Homo sapiens: one gene and its partner. The gene in region 1 interacts genetically with each later gene. Each region holds a gene or a part of one and is shown on either strand. Other genes may lie near its edges.

What was found.
Region 2: changes in PSMB7 (region 1) and MRPL22 together harm fitness more than expected from each alone (negative genetic interaction), as found in Homo sapiens cells (one large-scale study listed by BioGRID).

The regions. Positions count from the first base shown.
Region 1 is NC_000009.12:124,401,021-124,406,823, forward strand, and holds part of PSMB7 (proteasome subunit beta type-7 precursor), read right to left. Parts: intron 4,413-5,803; coding exon 4,297-4,412; intron 1-4,296. UniProt on the Homo sapiens protein: Component of the 20S core proteasome complex involved in the proteolytic degradation of most intracellular proteins. This complex plays numerous essential roles within the cell by associating with different regulatory particles.
Region 2 is NC_000005.10:154,967,492-154,969,911, reverse strand, and holds the end of MRPL22 (large ribosomal subunit protein uL22m), read right to left. Parts: 3' UTR 501-2,420; downstream 1-500.

The DNA.
Region 1 (5,803 bases):
TATGTATAGCATGAGCTCATTTGTGTGTTTTTTTTAAAGGGGTAACTAGATGACAGAGAAGGAGATACGTGAAAGTTTATCATAACACATTTTCTGGAAAAAAATACAAACAATTCTTAACAGTGGTTACTCTGGAGGGATGTGAAGGAGACTTTTCTTATAGTTCTTTGTCCCACTTGAATGTTCTGTCATGTTCATAAATTATGTTCAGTAGAAAATGCTTGAATGTCACTTGCTCAGAAAGGACTACACAAACACCCACCAGCCACACACTCCTTCCTATTATCCTCTCTAATGACTGTTCTTTTCCTCTGGGGCACTTATCACAATGCATTCTTCTAGGTTCATGTGAATTTACCTGTCTAATACCTGTCTCCCTCACAAGACTATAGGCTCTGAGGCAGACGCTGTGTTAACCACTAATCTTCCCAGCTCCTAGCAAAGTGCTCCGCACTAGTGATGCTTAATACACATCAGACAAATGAATGAAGAGATCCAATCCTCCTTCTAAGACTCGGCTCAAGTGAAGTTCTTCCTGAATTATCCCAGCTTGGAAGTGACCTTTTCTCCCTTGGGTCCCCTCCTGCCCTCGTCAGTAGGTACATCTGTCTCCCCCATTAGACTGAGTATCTGAGGACAAAGACCCTGATATTCACTTCTATCTGTGCTGCCTGCTATAGTGCCTTTACACAGAAGGCACTCACTAAAGAGCTGATGAGGCCGGGTGCAGTGGCTCACACCTGTAATCCTAGCACTTTGGGAGGCAGAGGCCGGCAGATCACGAGGTCAGGAGTTCCGTATCAGCCTGGCCAACACAGTGAAATCCCCTCTCTACTAAAAATACAAAAATTAGCTGAGCATGGTGGTGCATGCCTATAGTCCCAGCTACTCGGGAGGCTGAGGCAGGAGAATCACTTGAACCCGGGAAGCAGGGGTTGCAGCGAGCAGAGATCATGCCACTGCACACCAGACCGGGTGACAGTGCGAGACTCAGTCTCAAAAAAAAAAAAAAGCTGATAAATGAGTGGAGGAACAAACAAGACCTCAAAGTAACAATTTACTTGGGTATTAAAATCAGATGTTACTGATGTCTCATTCTCCTTAATCTGGCATTTTAGGGCAGCAAAACCAGTCTGTGTGGAGTCAGTGGTTTCTAAATAGAATTATTCTATAAACTCAAGAGCTGTGGACCCATCACCCGGAACTCAAATGAGACTTGGACAGACAGGAGGTCACTCTTGGCCAGGAAAAAGCACAAAGTTGGGCGGCAGAAGTAAAATGGGCAGACACAAAGCTGTTTACCTACTCACTTTCAACAACTTTTCCTAATTCAGCTTTATGCTCATGACACAAATTACCACAGTTCACTGGCAAGAGAAACCAATTTTCCCATTTTACAAATGAAGCTGCTTTGTATCAATGTCAAACTTCTTAAATTTGATGACTTTATCAAGGTGACAGAAGAGAACATCTTGAAGGATTCAGAGGTGAAAGGCTGTGGTGCCTGCTATTTACCCTCAAATGGTTCCCCACGCACACGAAACAATGATAGGAATAACAATGTGTGTGTGAGAGGCAGAACACATGTGTCAAAATGCTAACAACTGACACATCTGAGTAAAGGACAGATCAGTGTTTGTTGAACGTTACTGTTACTTTTCTGCAAGTCTGAAATTTAAGTAAAAAAAAGAAAAAATAAAAACTACTTAATAGAAAAGGTTATTCCACCTTTACCACCATTTAAAGGTATCAGATGGGGAGAAATAAAAGCAATACTTTGATGGAGATACCTAATACCTTTGAATAAAGCAATTCAGAACAATTCTAAAATTACCATAAGTATCTTCATTTTAGAATAACTGCAAAGATTCATCCGTATGGTATCTGGGGATAAATCATTCTCCCCAACAAACAGTGAACATCTGTTATATAAAAACCTTGTAAGAGGCTAGATAACAACACAATGGCATAGCAAAGTCTCAAACTGGCAATTTCCAAACTACTCAAGGCAGCAGTTTTCCTAGATGTGGAGCCAAGACACCAAGACAGAAAATATTAAGAGGTAAATGACAGCTGGAAAAACACCAGCTACACGATACACACAACCTGTTCGAATTTCTGGACCTATGCAATTTGACCCAGAAGCAATAATGTAAATGTTAGAACTTGAAAATCCCAATTCTTCTAAATATAATTTTATCACTATTTTTTGCAGTCATTAAAAAAAAAAAAATTATCAGCCACCTGTAATCCCAGCACTTTGGGAGGCTGGAGCAGGCAGATCACCTGAGCCCAGGAGTTCGAGACCAACCTGGGCAACATGGCAAAATCCCATCTCTACAAAAAATACAAAAATTAGATGGGTGTGGCAGAATATGGCTGTAGTCACAGCTACTCAGGAGGCTGCGGTGGGTGGATCACCTGAGCCCGGGGAAGTCGAGGTGGCAGTGAGCTGTGATTGCACCACTGTACTCCAGCCTGTGCAGCAGAGTGAGAGCCTGTCAAAAAATCTCCTAATCTAGCAGCTAGAGCTAAAACATAAATGCAAAAAGCTGGTTAGCAAATGAGGAAGAGAGGGGGCAAAAAAATAACTACTATTTACAGGCCAGGCATTGGAGCACATGCTTTATATACGTTATTTCCAACCATTACAACTTGGTGTGGTAGGTATTACCAATACCACTTCACAGGTAAGGAAATTGAGGTTCAGATAGAAATCAAATACCCCAATCCCTCAGAGATTAAGTAGTAAAGAAGGACCACAATCACTCCTCTAGGTCAAAATGTACCTGCCAAGTTTCAATGTAAGGCTTCTACTCTAGAATTCTACTCAAATCTCACCTTCTTCATAAGACCTGTCCTGACATTTTTTTTTTTTTTTTTTTTAAACAGACAGGGTCTCACTCTGTTGCCCAAGATGTAGTACAATGGCTTGATCACAGCTCATTGCAACCTCAAACTCCTGGGCTCATACAATGCTTCTGCCTCAGGCTCCCAAGCAACTGGGACTACAGGCACACACCACCACACTCAGCTTATATATATATGTGGCACAGACCGGGTCTTGCTATGTTGCCTAGGCTGGTCTTAAACTCCTGGCCTCAAGCAACCCTCCCACCTCAGGCTCCTAAAGCACTAGATTACAGGCATGAGCCACCGTGCCTGGCCCTGATCTTTCTATTTAACACTGCCATCTGCCTCCACCCCAGCCCCTGCCCACAACTCCCAAGTCCCCTTATCATGTGTGAATTTAATTTTTTGTTTTATGATCATTGCAAATTCATATGCAGATGTAAAAAATAGAGCATTTCCATATGAAGTTGACTCAGTTTCTCTCAAAGATAGTATCTTGTGTAACTATAGTACAATATCATCTGTATTACTTTTTTTCTTAGTATCACTTTCTAATACAGGCTGAGTAGCCCTTATCCAAAATGCCAGGGACCAGAAGTGTTTCAGATTTCAGGTTTTGGAATATCTACATTATAACTCACCCAATTCAGCATCCCTAATCCAAAAATCCAGAATCAAAAATGCTCCAATGAGGCTGGGCAGAGTGGCTCATGCCTATAATCCATCCAAGCATTTTGGGAGGCCGAGGTGGGCAGATTACTTGAAGTCAGGAGTTTGACACCAGCCTGGCCAACATGGTGAAACCCCATCTCTACTAAAACTACAAAAAATTAGCCGGGCATGGTGGCGTGTGCCTATCACTCCAGCTACTTGGGAGGCTGAGGCAGAAGAATCACTTGAACCCGGGAGACAGAGGTTGCAGTGAGCCGAGATCATGCCACTGCACTCCAGCCTGGGCAACAGAGCAAAACTCCATCTCAAAAAAGAAAAAAATAATAAAAATAAAAATGTTACAATGAGTATCATGTTAGCACTCAAAAACTTTAGGATTTTGGAGCTTTTCAGATTTCAGACTATAAAAATATATTCATAATACACAGGTTGTATAACCTGTGTATATTTATATATATTTATAATACCTGTGTATTAATTTAGAATACCTGTGTATTATAAATATACTTCTCACAGTTGTTTATTGTCTATTTACCCTCACTAAAATACAAAATCCTCGAGAGCAGGAATCACTATCAGAATTGTGTTGACTGCTATATAGCAAGCACCTAGAACACGGCCTAATCTATAGTAGGAACTCAGTATATATTTGCTGAATGAATCAAAGCATTGTATTGCACCTCCTCTTCTAAGAGAAAACAGACCAGCTCTTCAAGAGACCATCGTGGTAAGTAAGAGTACTCTTAAACATCAGGAAAACGTTACACTCACCCATGGTGACATAAGGCAACTTATCAGTTGATCCATGAGGATAGATGCTGTAGAGGTGAGGTCCAGTAACATCTACTCCCCCTAAAACTAGGGCTGCACCAATGTAACCTTGATACCTGGTGATCAGAGTATGCATAAGAAAAAAAACATGAGTCCACAAAGCATCACTGTAACTTAGCCAAAAGTTGCATGAGAAGTCAGGTAACAAAAAGTTTTCCTTAAGACTGTTTCATTAAGGGGTTATTGTTTTGATGGGAACAAAAAAGGGAAGGGAACATTAGATGAACATCTACTGTCAGCCAGTATAAACTATAAATTATGTGAGGCACTCCACACACCTGATTTCAGCTCAGCCTCACAGCCCCCATTATTATTATTTTTTTGAGACAGGGTCTCACTCTGTCACCCAGGCTGCAGTACAGTGGTATTATCACGGCTCACTGCAGCCTCAACCTCCCCAGGCTCAAGCAATCCTCCCACCTCAGCCTCCTAAGTAGCTGGGACTACAGGTGTGCACCACCACACCTGGCTAATTTTTGTATTTTTTTTTGGAGAGATGGCGTCTCGCCAAATTGCCCAGGCTGGTCTCAAACTCCTGGACTCAAGCAATCCTCCCACCTTGGCCTCCCAAAGTGCTGGGATTACAGGTGTGAGCCACCACACCCAGCCCACAGTCCCCTTTAAAAGACAACATTATCATTCCCATTTTAGAAAAGAAAAAACCAACCCAGAGACATTAAGAACTTGCCCGGTCTCAGAACCAAATTGGACTGACTCCAAAGATTATCAGCACTTTTCCCATCACACCTCTCTGTGATCAGCACATAAGCTACCTCCACAGTTAACAATGAGGAGGTGCTAAGCTCAGCTGTTCCACTGTTCAAATTATCAACCTGGCCACAAAGGCCAGGCATGGTGGCTCACACCTATAATCCCAGCACTTTAGGAGGCTGAGGTGGGCAAATCACTTGAGTCCAGGAGTTCAAGACCAGCCTGGGCAATATGGCGAGACCCTGTCTACAAAAAATACAAAAAATTAGCAAGGCATGGTGGCATGTACCTGTAGTCCCAGATACTTGGGAGGCTAAGGTGAGAGGATCCCTTGAGCCTGGGAGGCAGAGGTTGCAGTGAGCCATGTACACGCCACTGCACTCCAGCCAGGACAGAGCAAGAGTTGTCTCAAAAAAAAAAAAAAAAAAAAAAAGTATCAACCTCACCACAGCCCAAACAGAAAAATGGCTCATGTCGAAACACCTCTGCCTTTGAATTAACCCATATTATAATTACATATATGAACTCGTATCAAAAAAAAAGTATTTCATCATTCAGGAAAGTGAATATTAAAATAACTCCATGATAGCCTAAGAAACCACTGCTACTACACATAGGATAAACTTACACTTCCTCAGGAACATCACAGGAATATATTTTCCACCCACACCATCTCCACTTAATTGTGCACATATTTGTTCCTTTGGACCCTTTTTTTCCATTTCTATAGATTCCT
Region 2 (2,420 bases), on another chromosome or scaffold:
AATAAATACTTTCAATGATAGATGTACAGTTGTCTTTCCCATCAGTCAGCTCTTTCAGGCAGGGGCCATATTTACTATGTTCACTGCCTGTATCTTCAGTACCATGTATATAATAGTTGCCCAATAAATTAGAGTTGAAAAAACAAAAGCTGACCTTTTTTTTTTTTAATCTATCATGATTACTTTTTGAGAAGAGAGATGGGGTAGTGACCGGGGGTGCAGGTAGGGGCTTCAGGGTTGCTATTTATGTTCTATTTCTTGTCTTAATGGGGGTTATTTGTACATGTTCATCAGCTGATCATAATTTGTGCTGTATACTTGCAATTGGTGTACTTTCTGAATGTGCTACACTCAAATGATGAAAATTTGGGTCTACAGTAATTCTTTGGAAAAGAAGGAAAGTACAAGCATTCAGAGATTGCCATTAAAGAATAACAGATAATGGCTTCTGAATGTATTAGTCCATTTTCACACCACTATAAAGAATACCCAAGATTGGGTAATTTATAAAGAAAAGACATTTAATTGTGTCAAAGTTCTGCATGGCTGGGGAGGCCTCAGGAAACTTACAATCATGGCAGAGGGTGAAGTAGGCACATTTTACATGGCAGCAGGCAAGACAGCGAGTGAAGAGGGAACTTTCAAACACTTATAAAACCATCAGATCTCATGAGAACCCACTCACTATCACGAGAACAGCATGGGGTACACCACACCCATCATCAATCACCTCCCTCCGTCACTAGGTGGGGATTACAGGTCCCTCCCTGGACACATGGGGATTACAATTTGAGATAAGATTGGGTGGGAACACAGAGCCAAACCATATCACTGAACATGCAAAGTGAAACTTCAGGTGGGGACCACAATGTTCATGGATGTTAGAAAGTACACTCTTAGCCACGAAAACTAGCCGGATGTCACAATGGGAAAGATTCATTGAGATAATGTATATATAGTGCTTAAAATAGTACCAGATACAGTCAGTGACACAGGTTAGCTATTATTACTTTTTGTAACGTACTGGAAGCAGTTCCAAATGAAGGCTTAACCTGGGAAGGAAATTTTCTTCATTACAATCCTACTTTTTCCTTACCACTTTCAAAATAGCTTTTACAGCCTGACTGAAGCAGTGCCTTCACTTACATAATTTATATTTATGATGTCCATGGCACCACCTGGCTTTAGTCACACCCAAGGAAGTCACAACTCCAAGAGCAATCGTGGAGCATCCCCACCACATGAGAGCACAGTGACCTGGTGTGATAATTCTCCAACATGCAAATCACTGGGGCATTTATTAAAACTGCAGGTTCCATGGTCTCCCACACCAAAGCTTCTGATTCACTTAGTCTGAGAGTAGAGCCCAGGAATTTGCATTTTTAAACAAATTCTTCAAGTGATTCTAAAAAAGGTTTTCTACAGAGAACATTGAGTCTCTTGTTTCATAAATGAATGAAATGGAGGCCAGCAAGGGAAGAGACCTATCCAGTCTTCTTTCTGGCTAATGAGAATGCACAGACTAGAATGAAGGTTACCTTTTAATATTCCAGTGTTATTTCCCTGACTCCATGCTACAACAGCTTAGGACCCAGAATGAATCTGTCCTACACCTTGGTTTATTCCACTGACCCCTGATGTCTTTTTACCCATGCATTAGGTTAACTGGAGAGACACAAAAACCCAGCTGTATACTCAAAAGGTATGCAGAACCAGCTACTTTAGAAACCTTTCAATCATAGCCCCAATATTTACATGCTGTGTGACTTGTGATAGTTATTTGAATTCTGTGTGCTTCGGTTTATTCCTTTGTAAAGTGGTAAAACAAAAGCTACATTTTCAGGATGTTGTGAAGAATTATGTAAAATACTAGCACAGAGCTTGCAAATAACAAGTTCCCAGTAAACAGTAACTATTATTAATGCCATCTTAAAACATGGCAATAAAACTACATTTTTTCATTCTCCTAAAGCCGTATTCTCAAAGCGTAGTCCCCTACAACAGAATTACCTGGAAGTGTTTGTTTAAAACATAGATTTCTGAAACCAGCCCCCCATAAGACCTAGTGAATTGAATCATTGGGGTGGGGCCCAGAAGTCTGCATTAACAAGCAAGCATCCTCGATTCTTCTTTTGCATGCAAAAGTTGGACTAGGGCTGTAGACAAAGAGTACTTCTTCTTAATGAAGACGTGTATGAATGAGAGGGAAGCAGTGTTGAACACTCTAATTTGAAACTAACAATTTTCTGCTAATAAAAGGTTGAGTGCCACCTACTGCCCCATTTTAGAATGCAATGCTGAGATTGGTTCAATTCCTCTCTCAGTAATTGAATTTACCCTGAAAAATAAATCAATCCTAAACAAGATATCCAAACAATATAAAGCACTGTTGGAAGAAGAAATAAAAACAGGCTTTGCTT